2 separate regions of the Homo sapiens genome follow, and region 2 is linked to region 1. A link means that fine-mapping ties the variant in region 1 to the expression of a gene that starts in the linked region. Tissue or cell type: whole blood. Region 1 holds a variant in brackets; the other region holds the start of a gene. All regions are shown on one strand. Distances are from middle to middle.

Region 1 (8,000 bases):
ATGGAGTCATCAGATGTGGGACCTGCATTGGCCTGGCCAGGAGGTGTCTGTGCTGGTGCCTGGCTTCTCCAGGTGACTTTGGTTCAGTGCCTCCTGGGAGCAGGCCTGGCCAGCATCTGCAGGCAGATTGTCCCTTCCTGTGCCACTGTGACTTCCCCTGGACAGCTCGTCTGCTTCTTGCTTCTATATTCATTATGCAGCTGCTTCCCCCCAAGCAGCTGTGGGGGTCAGCAGGACACTGTTGGCTTGTAGAAGAGGAGGGGGATGTGCCTCACCCAGACTGGTCATTTCCAGCCCCTCACAGGCCCTCAGACATGCTGAGGAATGGCAGTGACAAAACTGCATGCCTCAAAGGTGCTTGGCCCTCCCTCTGTGGAAAAATCTAGAGCAGAGATGGAAGGTGTCCACCTCTAGGACTGGCTGAGCCCCAGGGAAACCCGCAAGCCTATCCTTCAAGGGGAGGGGTGTTGACGGCTGAGTAATATTTAGCAAAGCCTGTCATGAGCCATAAAAATATTCAGCCTTTGACCTACTAATCTGGCTTCTGGGAATCCCGTCGAAGGAAACTGTTGCCAACCTGAAAAAAACTGCACACAGTAATGTCTGTTTATGCTACAGAGAAACTGGCAGCAGTTTGGGGGTGGGATATTACTCAACTGTTAAAAATGCTCCCCATGGGCCGGGCGCGGTGGCTCACGCCTGTAATCCCAGCACTTTGGGAGGCCGAGGCAAGTGGATTACGAGGTCAGGAGATCGAGACCATCCTGGCTAACATGGTGAAACCCCATCTCTACTAAAAATACACACACAAAAAAATTAGCCGGGCGTGGTGGCGGGTGCCTGTAGTCCCAGCTACTCCAGAGGCTGAGGCTGGAGAATGGCGTGAACCCGGGAGGCGGAGCTTGCAGTGAGCCAAGATAGCGCCATTGCACTCTAGCCTGGGCAACTGAGCGAGACTCCATCTCAAAAAAAAAAAAAAAATGCTCCCCATGGGATACGCTGTGACGCAGAGCCATGTCAGATGCAGCAGAAAACAGTGACTGCTATGCCTGCAGCAAGATGGAGACCAGAGTGCCCTGTAGGCCAGCACGCAGCACCCACTCAGGGCAGTGACCTGGAGCTTCCTCAGATCCCTCTAAGGCAGACGTTCTGAATCCATCTTTGTTAGCAGTCTGGGAGACGAACTTAGCTTTGGTCAACCGGCAACAGCAAGGCAGGCTGGTTGTAGGGAAGGTGGGCTCAGACGTGGCCCCAGAGGTACCCCTCACCCAGCATCCCCAGCCGTGGCTGACTCTTCCCTGGGAGTTGTGATCAGAAATGGGGTGGAGCCCAGCGCGGTGGCTCACGCCTGTTTCCAGCACTTTGGGAGGCTGAGGTGGGAGGATCCTTGAGGCCAGGAGCTCGAGACCAGCCTATGCAAAATACTGAGATCCTATCTATACAAAAAATTAGCTGGGTATGATAGTGCATGCTTATAGCCCACCTACTTGGGAGACTGAGGCAAGAGGATCGCTTGAGCCCAGGAGTTTGCAGCTACAGTGAACCTTGATCACACCACTGCACTCCAGCCTGGAAGAAATAGGAGCCAGGTGTGGTGGCTGGAATCCCAGCACATTGGGAGGCTGAGATCAGAGGATCGCTTGAGCCCAGGGGTTCAAGACAAGCCTGGACAACATAGCGAGATCCCATCTCTTAAAAAAAATTAGCTGGAGTATAGTGGTGCACACCTGTGGCCCCACCTACCTGGGAGGCTGACGTGGGAGGGTCGCTTGAGCACAGGAGGTCTAGGCTATAGTGAGCTAAGATCTTGTATCAAAAAAGGAAAAAAAGCAGGCTAGAGGGGCCAGGGGGCAGGTGATGGGGTCTCAGTACTGCAGGTGGTAGCCCTCCCCTTTTTGGAGCCAGCCTGGCCCCAGCACCTCTAAGACAGTTGAGTCTGGACCTGCCTTCATGACCCTCATTATCCCTTCTGCACCCTGAGGATTGTGTGCGGGGGAACTGGGGGTGGGAGACATCACGGATCGGTAGTGGGCCATCCTCTTTCCTCTCCTCTGTCTCTGTCTGTCTCCCACTGTCTCTGCACACCCTCCCAAACCCACTATCAGATCTTTTTTCTCTAGTCCCCCGTCTCTCTCAGGATTCCCACAAAGTGATGGCTGGCTCTGTCTTGCAGGTGGCCAACATGAGTGCTAAGGACGGCACGTGTACACTGCAGGACTGCATGTACAAGGATGTGCAGAAGGACTGGCCTGGCTACTCGGAGGGGGACCAGCAGCTGCTGAAGCGGGTGCTCGTCCGGTAATGCCGCCTCCCATCCCCCAGCATGTCCCCACCCGCATGAAGGCAGCCAGAGCTTACCCAGAGGATGCTGGGGTGGTCTTGTGTGGTCCTGAAGGCCACAGGGCTTGGGAGCAGGATGGAAGGGTCCAAGTAGGCCTCTCTGGCCATCCTCCCTACTGCCCACGTGGTGCCCCAGGGTGTCCCGTGGTGGGGGAAGGCCACGCTCACAGAGTGGGACGGAGGTGTGAGTCACTGGCCCCGACCTTGGAATCTTCAGACAAAAGGCCTCAGTCTGCTGAGACCCTCCTCAGCTGTCCCCAACTTCCCTTCATGCTTCCCTCCACAACCTGGGCATCCCCACAGGGCCTGGGAAGTTCACTGACTTTTTGAAAAGAGCCTCTCAAGAACCTGAAGTAGAGAGAAATAAGGCCAAACGACACTCCCGGCAGGGCAGGCGTCATTAAGCAGCGTTAATTAAATGCATCCCCTCAGGCTAATTGGGACCCAGGGTCAGAAGTGGCAGCAGCTCAGGGGAGCAGTGGTTAAGGAGGCAGGCGGCTAATGACTTCCTTCTCCACTGCTGCCAGCTAGGGGAGCTCGGGCTGTGAAGCAGGTCAATCTGCTAATTAGTCCGTAAGTGATTTCTCAGGGACTCGGAGGTATTTATGAGTTTGTAGTTGTTTTTTGGAAGTTCAGCTGTTTAAAGCAGTAATTGCCTCTGGAAAGCAGAATGAAGTTGGGGGTCCACTCTGCTCCCCTGAGAGGGTAGTGCCTGCCTGTCCACCCTGGGTGTGCAGGTCAGGGGCCTGCGGGGCACTGCCCTGGCTTGGCGGCAGGCTGGCGGAGGGCACAGTCTTGGCAGAAGACCCGCCCCCATCCTCATACCCTGTGTCCTCTCCCTTGGCCCCCTGGGTTCCTCAGACCCTTAGGGCACTGGAAGGAGAACTGCCCAGAGCTAGTGGAGTGAGGTGGAGAAGGCTGGGCTGCACCTCTGGGGCGTCGGGGAGCTTCCCCGGGATGCAGGCTCCAGAGCCGCCTCCAGCTCCCCTGATTCAAGGCTCATGTTCCGTCTGCTGAGTGAGCTTGCTGGGCTCATGCCAGCCCCTTGGCACTCTGCTTTCACTCTGGGCCGGCATGGGGATCAGCACTGCCTTCACAAGCTTCCACTAGCGTGCAGGGGGCAGGGTTGATGTCCCTGGGCCATAACCACATAGAAGGTGACCTGCGGTGCCCCTCTGCATAGCTGTTTTTTTTTTTTTTTCCTATTTAGCACCCCATCCCTAAGAAAGCCCCATTTATAGCAGTTTTTGACACCATGGCTTCGTGTATATCAAAGCAGGGCCTTGGAGTATTTGTTACCAGCTGGGCTAGCCCAGTGCAGGCCGTTAGCCTAGTGCAGGCCGTGAGACAGATGGGATGTGGGGGCCCAAGTCACTGCAGGAGCCTCCCCAGCTGAGCTGGCACCACATGTGGCTTTGGGGGGTGGTTTCTCCACTCATGTTCTCTTTGTTCATGATGTCCAAACCCGATCTGTCCCTGGTATCCAAATCTCCTCTCATCACTGTCCATGGGTCAGGGGTCCTGCAGGTCCCCCCAAGAGTTCCTGATTCCTCTGCCCAAGCCACACACTGCCTGGTGCCCTTACCTCCAACCTGAGCCACTCCCCTCTCCTGTGAGCCCCATGCCAGAGTCTATATACTCCTCCTTCCTGCTCCTCCCTGGTGCCAAGGGAGCACAGCTCCTGGAGCACCTCTCTGAGGACAGGGCTCCAGGAGGACTGCTGGCCACATCTTCATGCCCAGACGATGGTCCTGCTGAGCCGGCGGTTGATCACATCTAGACTTGTAGAGTCCAAGATGCTTTCCCTCCACGTTGAAGGTCAGAGGCTTCCCACCCCAACCCTGTGCTGGTCCACAGAGCCAGGGGCTGGCCAGGTACCTACTCTGGGATGGTGGGCACCACGGCCCCCGCAGGCTGAAAACTTGCCTTATCC[G/A]TCTATCCGTCCTTCTGTCCTGTGTGTGGTAGTGGAAAGGCCTATCCTACTGCACACCACCTCAAACTGCTCTTGGCAGGCTGCTAGAGTCTGTCCTCCTCTTCCTGGTTTTCATCTCTTTTTTTTTTTTTTGTGATGGAGTTTTGCTCTTGTTGCCCAGGCTGGAGTGCAATGGCGCGATCTCGGCTCACAGCAACGTCCGTCTCCTGGGTTCAAGCCATTCTCCTGCCTCAGCATCCAGAGTAGCTGGGATTACAGGCATGCGCACCATGCCCGGCTAATTTTGTATTTTTAGTAGAGATGGGGTTTCTCCATGTTGGTCAGGCTGGTCTCAAACTCCGGATCTCAGGTGATCCGCCCACCTCAGCCTCCCAAAGTGCTGGGATTACAGGCGTGAGCCACCGCGCCCAGCTGGTTTTCATCTCTTGCTCTTTTTTATTCTCCTTTTAGGAGACTTCTTTGACATTTCTCATCCTGTCTCTTAATTTACTATTATTTGTAGTTTCTTTTTTTTTCTTGAGACAGAGTGTTGCTCTGTTGCCTAGGCAAAGAGATGGGGTTTCACCATGTTCTCCAGACTGGTCTTGAACTCCTGACCTCAAGTGATCTGCCTGCCTCAGCCACCCAAAGCACTGGGATTACACATGTGAGCCACCATGCAAGGCCTATTATTTCTAGTTTCTAAGAGTCTTCCCCATTGCGTTTTCGTAGGAGCATGTTCTTTTTTTTTTTTTTTTCCTGAGACAGAGTCTTGCTCTGTCACGCAGGCTGGAGTGCAGTGGCATGATCTCGGCTCACTGCAACCTCCGCCTCCTGGGTTCAAGCAATTCTGTGCCTCAGCTTCCCGAGTAGCTGGGATTACAGGTGCCCGCCACCACGCCTGGCTAATTTTTGTATTTTTAGTAGAGATGGGGTTTCACCATCTTGGCCAGGCTGGTCTGGAACTCCTGACCTCATGATCCACCCGCCTCGGCCTCCCAAAGTGCTGGGATTACAGGCGTGATCCACTGTGCCTGGCCTAACTCATCATGTTCTTATTTAATGGAAAGGATGTCTTTTTCTTTCTTTCTTTCTTTTTTTTTTTTTTTGGAGAGGGACTCTCACCCTATCGCCCAACCTGGAGTGCAGTGGCGCAATCTTGGCTCACTGCAACCTCTGCCTCCCCGGTTCAAGCAATTCTCCTGCCTCAGCCTCCTGAGTAGCTGGGATTACAGGCATGCACCACCATGCCCGGCTAATTTTTTGTATTTTTAGTAGATCTGGGGTTTCACCATGTTGGCCAGGCTTGTCTCAAACTCCTGACCTCAAGGGCCTCAGCCTTCCAAAGTGCTGGGTTTACAGGTGTGAGCCACCGTGCCCAGCCAGGATGCCTTTTTTTTTTTTTTTTTTGAGACTGAGTCTCACTCTGTTGCCCAGGCTGGAGTGCAGTGGCGCAATCTCTGCTCACTGCAACATCTGCCTCCCAGGTTCAAGTGATTCGCCTACCTCAGCTTCCCGAGTAGCTGGGATTACAGGCGCCTGCCACCACGACCGGCTAATTTTGTATTTTTAAGTAGAGACAGGGTTTCACCATGCAGGCCAGGCTGGTCGGGAACTCCCAACCTCAGGTAATCTGCCCATCTCAGCCTCCCAAAGTACTGGGATTACAGGCATGAGCCATTATGCCCAGCCCAGGATGTCATTTTTAACCTACTCTAAGGATGTTTATTTTATTTATTTCTTTATTTATTTTGAGACGGAGTCTTGCTCGTCACCCAGGCTGGAGTGCAGTGGCGCGATCTCGGCTCACTGCTAGCTCCGCCTCCTGGGTTGACACCATTCTCCTGCCTCAGCCTCGCGAGTAGCTGGGACTACAGGCGCCCGCCACCATGCCCGGCTAATTTTTTGTATTTTTAGTAGAGATGAGGTTTCACCGTGTTAGCCAGGATGGTCTCGATCTCCTGACCTCGTGATCCACCTGCCTCGGCCTCCCAAAGTGCTGGGATTACAGGCGTGAGCCATCGGGCCCGGCCTCTAAGGATGTTTTTTAAAGAATAACAGCTTTATTCAGATACAGTTCATGTAACACAAGTCATCCATTTAAAGTGAGCAGCTCAGTAACATTTTGTACGTTCATAATATTGTGCAGCCACCACCTCTGTCTAGTTCCAGAAAATTTTCATTTCCCCAAAAGGAAACCCTATCCCCATCAGGAGTCATTCTCCCCATTCCCTCCCATGCTCCCAGCCCCTGGTAACTACTAATCTGCTTTCTGTCTCTATTGATTTGCCTGTTGTGGACATTTCAGATCAATGGAATTATACGCTGTGTGGCTGACATGTAATCTGTGGAAACTTGTAGCTGTGAGGAATGTTGAATCAGGACCGGGCGTGGTGGCTCATGCCTATAATGTCAGCACTTTGGGAGGCTTAGGTGGGAGGATTGCTTGAGCCCAAGCCTGGGCTCAAGTTCTAGACAAGCCTGGGCAACATAGTGAGACCCTCATCTCTACAAAAAATGAAAAAATTAGCCAGGCATGGTGTTGTGCTCTTGTGATCCCAGCTACCCTAGAGGCTGAGGTGGGAGGATCACTTGAGCACAGGAGATCCAGGCTGCAGTGAGCTGTGACTGGGATTAGAGGCGTGAGCCACTGCGCCCAACCTATTTTCTGTTTTTTTTATTCCAGTCATCCCTGGGTGTGTGTGAAGTGGTATCTCGTTGTTTGTTTTTTGTTTGGTGGGTTTGTTTGTTCATTATTGCTCCTTGCAGGGCAGGGCTAACCCATAGGCAGTGTGCCCAGAGTAGCCAGTGTCTCGTTGTTTTGATTTGCATTTCCCTGATGACACATGGCATTGAGCATCTTGTTATGTGCTTTTAGCCATTTGTATAGCTTCTTTGAAGAAACGTCTATTCAGAGCTTTTGTTTTTCCAAGGACACGAAAACTGGCATTTTTTATTTATTTATTTTATGTTTTTGAGACGGAGTCTCGGTCTTGTTGCCCAGACTGGAGTGCAATGGCATGATCTCTGCTCACTGCAACCTCCGCCTCCCGGGTTCAAGTGATTCTCCTGCTTCAGCCTCCCAAGTAATTGAGGTTACAGGTGCCCACCACCATGCCCGGCTAATTTTTTTGTACGTTTAGGAGAGACGGGGTTTCACCATGTTGGCCAGACTGGTCCCGAACTCCTGACCTTAGGTGATCCGCCTGCCTTGGCCTCCCAAAGTGCTGGGATTACAGGCGTGAGCCATGGGCGCCCGGCCTGTTGATTTATTTTTTAACGTTTTCATCTCCCTGTGGAGTCTCTTTTCAAATGTATTTTCGTGTTCCTCTGTTTTGAGGTCTGACGTTTGTTGCCTGGAAGCTGCAGTGCAGCCGTTGGGGACACTGCACAGCTTGGGGCCTCTGAATCCCGATGTGCCCTAGTCCTGGGCCCTGTTTCTTCTTCTCCTGAGGCCACACATCTGGCCATCCTGTTGTCCAGCTGTGGCCCAGGTAACTTCCCAACTGCCTGGAGGAGTGGCCCGAGCCTCTTTGCTGCCTGACAGCCCTGGGCTCACTGTCCTGCAGCCCCACCAGCAGTGATGAGGATCTGGAGTAGAGCTGTGGGGGATGGCCCTGCAGCAGTCTGTTGTCCCCTGAGGTCGTGGTGCCTCTTGCTCTGGGCCCTGGATTCTCTGGATCCTGCAGCAGTCACCACTCATGCTTCTGCTATGCTTTCCGGTGTCTTCACTCCTCCTTTTGTCTCT
Region 2 (8,128 bases), 65 kb before region 1:
GCCATGGGTAACCTAGTTCTTAAAAATTTCTGCAGACAAAGCCGGACACGGTGGCTCACGCCTGTAATCCCACCACTTTGGGAGGCCGAGGCGGGTGGATCACTTGAGGTCAGGAGTTCGAGACCTACATGGTGAAATCCCGTCTCTACTAAAAATACAAAATTAGCTGGGTGTGGTGGCGTGTGCCTGTAATCCCAGCTACTCAGGAGGCTGAGGCAGGAGAATCACTTGAACCAGGAGGCAGAGGTTGCAGTGAGCCGAGATCGTGCCACTGCACTCCAGCCTGGGCAACAAGAGCAAAACTCCGTCTCAAAACAAAGAAACAAAAATGTCTGCAGACGGCCAGGTGCAGTGGCTTATGGCCTATAATCCTAGCACTTCCTAGCACTTTGGGAGGCTAGGCGACAGGATCTTTTGAACCCAGGAGTTAGAGACCAGCCTGGGCAACATGGAAAAATCTCATCTCTTCAAAAAATACAAAAGATTGGCCCAGTATGGTGGAGCATGCCTGTAATTTCAGCTACTTGGGAGGCTGAGGTGGGAGGATGGGTTGAGCCCAGGAGTTGGAGGCTGCAGTGAGCCGAGATCATGCCACTGCACTCCAGCCTGGGTGACAGAGTGAGAACTTGTCTCCAAAAAAAAAAAAAAAAAAAAAGGCCAGGCATGGTGGCTCACGCCTGTAATCCCAGCACTTTGGGAGGCTGAGGCAGGCGGATCATCGGATCATGAGGTCAGGAGATCGAGACCATCCTGGCTAACACGGTGAAACCCCGTCTACTAAATATACAAAAAATTAGCCAGGCGTGGTGGCACGTGCCTGTAACCCGAGCTACTCGGGCGGCTGAGGCAGGAGAATCGCTTGGACCCAGGAGGCGGAGGCTGCAGTGAACCCGAGATTGTGCCACTGCACTCCAGCCTGGGCGACAGAGTGAGACTCCGTCTCAAAAAAAAAAAAAAAAAAGAAACTTCTGCAGAGCATGCCAACGTCTGATAAGTTCTGCCTTATTTTTCCTGGGGTCTCATTGAGATCCACTGGGGAATCAAATGTAAAGTAGACGTGGAGAAATACTTTTTTTTTTTGGGACCGAGTCTTGCTCTGTCACCCAGGCTGGAGTGCAGTGGCACGATCTCGGCTCACTGCAAGCTCTGCTTCCTGGGTCCAAGCTATTCTCCTGCCTCAGCCTTCTGAGTAGCTGGGATTACAGGCGTGTGCCACCATGCCTGGCTAATTTTAGTGTTTTTAGCAGAGACGGGGTTTCACCATGTTGGTCGTGGTGGTCTCGAACTCCTGACCTCATGATCCAGCCCCCTCGGCCTTCAAAAGTGCTGGGATTACAGGCGTGAGCCACTGGGGGCCTGGCTTTTTTTTTTTTTTTTTTTTTTTTTTTTTGGAGACAGGGTCTTACTCTGTCACTCAGGCTGGAGTGCTGGAATATAGTGGTGCGAACATAGTTCACTACAGCCTCAACCTCCCATGGGCTTGAGAGAGCCTCCCATGTCAGCCTCCGGAGTAGCTGGGACCACAGGGGTGCTCCACCATGCCCGGCTAATTTTTTTAATTTTTTAAATTTTTTTGTAGAGAGGGGGCTTAGCCCTGTTACCCAGGCTGGTCTCAAGCCCTTGGGTGCAAGCGATCCTCCCGTCATGGCATCCCAAAATGCTGGGATTTCAGGTGTGAGACACCTTGCTAGGTCCTGAGTACTGCTCTTATTGCTGTTTCCTGTTTCCGAAGTGAATCCACAGAGGCTCAGAAGCAGGAGGTGCCTTTCACAAGATCACAGAGCGAGCTGGTTGGCCCTCCAAGCCAGCTCCTCCCTTGGCCAGGCGCAGTGGCTCACGCCTGTAGTCCCAGCACTTTGGTAGCCCTAGGCAGGCGGATCACCTGAGGTTGGGAGTTAGAGACCTGATCAATATGGTGAAACCCCGTCTCTACTGAAAATACAAAAATTAGCTGGGCGTGGTGGTGGGCATCTGTAATCCCAGCTACTCGGGAGGCTGAGGCAGGAGAATCGCTTGAACCTGGGAGGCGGAGGTTGCAACGAGCTGAGATGGCACCGTTGCACTCCAGGTTGGGCAACAAGAGTGAAACTCTGTCTCAAAGAAAAAGAAAAAAAAATCTCGGAAATTAGATAGTGGTGACAGCTACACAGCATTGGGAATATATTTTATATGTAAAATGTGACTCAATGAAGTTGCTTTTTAGAAAATGGAAGGCTGGCCGGGCACAGTGGCTCATGCTTGTAATCCCAGCACTTTGGGAGGCCGAGGTGGGTGCATCACTTGAGGTCAGGAGTTCCAGACCAGCCTGACTAACATGGTGAAATCCCGTCTCTACTAAAAATACAAAAAATTAGCTGGGCGTTGTGATGGGCGCCTGCAGTCCCAGCTACTACTCGGGAGGCTGAGGCAGGAGAATTGCTTGAATCCAGGAGGCGGTGGTTGCAGTGAGCCGAGATCACACCACTGCACTCCAGCCTGGGCAAGGAAATCGAAACTCTGTCTAAAAACAAACAAACAAACAAAAACTGGGGGAGGTGGCTCACGCCTGTAATCCTAGCACTTTGGGAGGGCGAGGCGCGCGGATCACCTGAGGTCAGGAGTTCAAGACCAGCCTGGTCAACATGGTGAAACCCCATCTCTACTAAAATACAAAAATTAGCTGGGCATGATGGCGGGCGCCTGTAATCCCAGCTACTCGAGAGGCTGAGACAGGAGAATCGCTTGAATTCAGGAGACGATGGTTGCATTGAGCCGAGATAGCGCCACTGTTCTCCAGTCTGGGCTGATGAGCAAGACTCCGTCTCAAAAAAAAAAAAAAAGAAAAGAAAAGAAAATGGAAGTCTGGGCTTGGTGGCTCACTCCTGTAATCCTAGCATTTCAGCAGACCCAGACAAGGAGGATCAGTTTGAGTTCAGGAGGTCGAGGGTGCAGTGAGCCATGATGGCGCCATTGCACTCCAGCCTGGGCAACACAGCAAGACCCCTCAAAAAAAAATTAAAATAGGAAAATGAAGCTGGACTGCACCATCGCTCAGGGACTGTGGGGATGTAGGATTTTATCCTATTAAAAGTACTCATCTCATAAGAAAAAGTTTACCAGCTCCTCTTCCACCTACCGGTCCAGCACCTTCCCTGGGTGGAAGTCCCATCCACCCCGCCTAAGGGATGCCTTATGTGTCCAACCCAGCGTCCAACGCGCGCGCTCCGTTTACATAGCCACGCCCACCCTCCCGGCCCGCGGCGGGGCCTACCCACCCACGTGTTTCGAGCCGGCTCCGCCCCTCCACGCCCTCTCTGCGGCTTTCCACAGAAGCCAAAGACGGAAGACTGTAGAGATCTCATAAATAATGCATCACGTCAGCGGCTGTAGGGGCGGGGCTTTGACGCGCCTGGCTGGCTGAGTCAGGGTTATGTATAATACTATGGAGGCGGGGCCTGGAGGGGTGCGCGTGTTGAGGCGGAGTTCGTTCACGGAAGTGGCCACCCCTAGGGCCTGAAGAGGCGGGGCCATAAGTGCCTTATGAATATGCAACAACTTGGGGCGTTGACTGTGGGCCTTGTGGGGCCCTCATGGGGCGTGGCCAGGCGCGTCTCCTGAATAATGTAGTGCGCTGCCTGCCGGTGTGGCGGCGACTGTTGGTTTGGTCGGACTCGGGGGGCGTGGCCAGCCGCGTCTCATGAATAATGCAGCGCGTCAGCGGGCGGCGGGGCGGGGCGTGGCCGGCGTGGCGGCGCTGGAGCCGGGAAGGGGGCGCGGGGGAGAGATGGTCGCAAGATGGCGGCGCTGAAGGAGGATAGGAGCTACGGGCTGTCGTGCGGGCGGGTTAGCGACGGCAGCAAGGTGTCGGTGTTCCACGTGAAGCTCACCGACAGTGCCCTGAGGGCCTTCGAGAGCTACCGCGCCAGACAGGTGAGTGGCATGGCGCCCGGCGCGCCAGTGGGGAACGTCCGGACGCGGGCCGGCCTCGCGCTCCCCTCACTGAGGCGTCCGGGCTCGGAGACGCTAGGTCTGTGGTGCTGCTCGCGGGTCCCTGGGCCGGCGGGGCGCGGAGTGGGCGCCAGTCCGGCCTGGAGCGCTGAGAACCGCGTTCCTTCTCAGCACTAGGAGGCAATACAGGCGGGTGGCCCGGGGCTGCTGAGGGGCCCAGACTCGCGCGCCGGGCCCGGGGGGCGTCGGTGTCGGCACCTGGCGGCGTCCGGGGCCTTTCTGGCCTGCTGGGCACCTGGGCAGGGTCCAGTTTGCGCACCTGGCGGCGGGGCGAGGAGGCGGTGGGCCGCACGGTCCCGGCACCGTGATAGGGGGAAGCTGGGGGCTTTTCCATCTGGGGCCGGGGCAGCGCCGTTGGTGGGGGTGACTGTGTCTGTCCTCCTGGGAAGCAGCGATCGTCTGGGTGCCCGGCAGGGGGTGGTCAGCGAGGCACTTGTGGGGGTCTGTTCTGTCTGGGTGGAAGGCTTTGCAGCTGGGGGCTGGCTTTGACGCGTTCCGATGAAGCCACTCAGGTTGGGCCACTTTGGTTCTTGGGACGGGGAGTTTGGGCAGAAACTGACAGCTTGTCCCAGCTTTCTGCTCCCCTTACCCCCAGGTGACCCTCTCTCTCCGGAGAGAGGTTCCTTGGAGAGTGGAAGTGTTGGGGGCGGCTGTGATGTTATCCTCAGGGCACATGTAGGGGATCCCTGCCACCCAGGAGGAAGCTCTGGCTACCACATCTGGCCGCTGACTCTGGAACTTCTCAGAGGCCGATTTGGGCCCATCTGGGGGAAGTTTGAGGCGTTTCGGTTCTGCCACCTGGCTGGTGGTGGGGAGGGGAGGCTGCTGTGTATGTTCTCTTGGGCCTGACTTTGGGGCGCATCTGGGGCCGTGGTCAGAAACCTGCCTTTTTCATTTCTGTTTGTGTCATGGCCCCCCCTCCCCCCGTCTGTGCTGGGTCAGAAGTTGCAGATGACCAGTGGTCAGGTCCCGAGGGGAAGTGGTTTAGGAACCTTGTAACTCCTTTTCTGGAAATTGGGGGCTTCATTGCCCTAAAGGGAGTGGGGGTGGGTCTAGTCTCGGGCTCAGAGAGCCCTGCTCCCTGCGTGTGTGTGTGTTTGTGTATACTGTTGATGGTGGGGGTGGGGGGGTGCCGCGGGCGGGGGAGGAGGGAGACTAACTAGGAAGGAATGTGGCTTTCTTCCTGCCCCGAACTTGTTCAGCTCCATTAGCTAAGCCGAGAATTTCTTCCCCCTGTTTCGTTTCCACCACTCTCCCGGTGCCCACCCCTTCCGTGCTTCTTCCCATGTCTTTGGGCAATTTCCTCCCTGTCCCGGTGTCGCAGTTTTCCCCTTCATGGAATGAGGATTTCATTTTTTTTTGAAAGAGCAAGTTCGCACCTTGTCAAAAAGACTCCCCAAGATGAGGCTAAGGCGCCCCTGCAGGTGAGGAGGAGACAGTGGCAGCGACAGCAGCTGCTGGCCCATGACCAGCCAGAGCCTCTCTTCCTGGTAGAATTCTGGCCCTGGGTCTTTTTCCCTGAGCGATTCTGACTTGTCCTGCAGGAAGGCAGGCTTTCCTAGAAACAGCTGGGGGAGAGCTCGTGAGTCATATAACTACGATGGACTTGGTACCTGGTCACCACTGTCTTCTGTGCTTTAGGAACCAGGAGCTCCGCCTTCTCTCTGATGCTGCCCTCGCTTGCTTTTCAGTCCAGAAGGTCCGCCTGTGTGTCCACCTCATGCTGTCACACTGCTATTTTTACTTTAGGGTATTGGTTACATCCCCTCTCTAAGCTGGATCTTCCTCATGTTAGGGTGAAGGTAACTGTGGACTGTTAAACTCCTCTGGCTCGGAGCCCAGCTGTGTAGGGCAGTGTGTTGACCAGCCAGGAGGGGCTTCCTAGAAGAACTTTTCCAAGCCATCCAGAGCAACTTGGCTGGCTGGATTATATTTTGGGGTGATTCAAACTTGGATTTTTCTCAAAAAGCTGTCTGGTAATTTAAGTGGCTTGGCCACTTTCTTTCTTTCTTTCTTTCTTTTTTTTTTTTTTTTTTGAGATGGAGTTTCACTCTGCTGCCCAGGCTTCATTGAGGTGGCGCGATCCCGGCTCACTGCAGCTTCTGCCTCCCGGGTTCAAGCGATTCTCCTGCCTCAGCCTCCCGAGTAGCTGGGACTACAGGCACGTGCCACCACACCCGGCTAATTTTTGTATTTTTAGTAGAGACAGGGTTTTGCCATGTTGGCCAGGCTGGTCTTGAACTCCTGACCTCCAGTGATCCGTCCTTCTCAGCCTCTAAAAGTGCTGGGACTACAGGCATGAGCCACTGCTCCCAGCCAGCTTGGCTACTTTCGAATTTAATCTTGCCCATGGGGCAGTATAGTGGATGGACTTTTCTAAGGCACGGCAGCTCCGTGCTCTCTGTGGTTTTGGGTAGTGAGCTTGAGGAAGGTGGCTTGAAGAACTTGATTGTGTAACCAGAGAAATATACTGGTTATGGACAAACTCTCATGTGGACAACTCTATCACCCAGAAGCCAGAGTTTTGTATTCCTCGATGCTGTGGTTATATAGTTTGCCAATTGCAACTTGTGGAGAGGGCTTTTATTTTTAATTTCTTTTTTTTTTTTTTGAGACGGAGTCTTGCTCTGTTGTCCAGGCTGGAGTGCAGTGGTGCGATTTTTCGTGTTAGCCAGGATGGTTTCGATCTCCTGACTTTGTGATCTGCCCACCTCGGCCTCCCAAAGTGCTGGGATTACAGGCGTGACCAACCGTGCCCGGCCTATTTTTAGTTTTTAATTGTGAAGAGGCTTTTACAAATTCAGGTGTGGCAGGGGCTAGAAAGGAACTTGCTGTGGAACTTTCTCTGTGGCTCCCAGGAGCAGGTAATCCTAGCTCTGGGAACAGCCCAGGTAGAAGCCCTCCTGTTTTCTCTCCCCAGAGGGCTCTGGTGTTGACCTGGTAGCCAGCTGGAGCAGCGTGGTGGAAGGTAAAGGCGCAGCAGTACACATAGCTGCTGGCCTTCTCACTCTACCTTGGACTTTGTGCAGTTTTTCTTTCCTTTTTTTTTTTTGAGACAGGGTCTTGCCCTGTCGCCCAAGCTGGATTGCGCTGGCGTGATCTCAGCTCACTGCAACCTCCGCCTCCCGGGTTCAAGTGATTCTCCTGCCTCAGCCTACCAAGTAGCTGGGATTACAGGCACGCATCACCGTGCCTGGCTAATTTTTGTATTTTTGGTAGAGATGGGGTTTTACCATGTGGTCAGGATGGTCTCAAACTCCTGACCCCTCAAGTGATCCATCTGCCTCAGCCTCCCAAAGTGCTGGGATTATAAGCTTGAGTCGCCACGCTGGGCCCCCTTTTTTTTTTTTTTTGAGACAGGGTTTTGCTCCATTGTCCAGGCTGGAGTGCAATGGCATGATCATAGCTCACTGCAGCCTCGAACTACCACCCTCCTGCTTCAGTCTCCTGAGTAGCTGGGGCCACAGGTGTGCACCACTGCACCTGGCTAAGTTTTAAATTTTTTTGTAGAGACGGGGTCTCACTATGTTGCCAAGGCTGATTTCAAACGCCGGGGCTCAAGTGATTTCCCTGCCTCAGCCTCCCAAAGTGCTGTAATTACAAGAGTGAGCCATCGTGCCTGGCCTAGTTTTTGTTGTTGTTGTTGTTGTTTTTTGAGACAGAGTTTCACTCTTGTTGCTAGGCTGGAGTGTAATGGTGTTATCTTGGCTCACTGCAACCTCAGCCTCCCAAATAGCTGGGATTACAGGCATGCACCACCATGCCCTACAAATTTTGTACTTTTAGTGGAGACGGGGTTTTACCATGTTGGTCAGGCTGGTCTCGAACTCCTGACCTCAGGTGATCCTCCTCCCTTGGCCTCCCAAAGTGCTGGGATTATAGGAGTGAGCCTTCGTGCCTGGCCTAGTTTTTCTCTTTTCTTTTCTTCTTCTTCTCCTTCTTTTTTTTTTTTTTTTGAGACAAGGTCTTACTCTGTCACCCAGGCTGGAGTACAGTGGTGTGATCATAGCTCACTGCGGCCTTGAACTCCTGGGCTTAAGTGATCTTCCCACCTCAGCTGCCCAGAGTGCCGGGACTACAGGCATGAGCCATTGTGCCTGGCCCAGTTTTTTTCTTTTTCTTTTAATTAAAAAAAATTTTT

Evidence for each region. PIP is the estimated chance that this variant, and not a neighbour inherited with it, causes the effect.
Region 2: it holds the start of ELL, and the variant in region 1 is fine-mapped to the expression of ELL in whole blood (TOPMed, PIP above 0.99).

Annotation. Positions count from the first base shown.
Region 1 is chr19:18,452,503-18,460,502 of GRCh38, reverse strand. It overlaps ELL (elongation factor for RNA polymerase II), which reads left to right. Exons shown (of 12, transcript NM_006532.4): 6 at 2,174-2,298. Among named protein-coding and RNA genes, the nearest start is that of ISYNA1, 18 kb to the right of the region's middle. RefSeq lists a silencer at 4,738-4,954. The variant G/A (reference allele first, on the strand shown) is at 4,274.
Region 2 is chr19:18,517,702-18,525,829 of GRCh38, reverse strand. It overlaps ELL (elongation factor for RNA polymerase II), which reads left to right and starts at 3,760. Exons shown (of 12, transcript NM_006532.4): 1 at 3,760-3,909. The coding sequence starts at 3,775. RefSeq lists enhancers at 3,267-3,596, 3,740-4,255, 4,256-4,771 and silencers at 3,987-4,296, 5,027-5,076.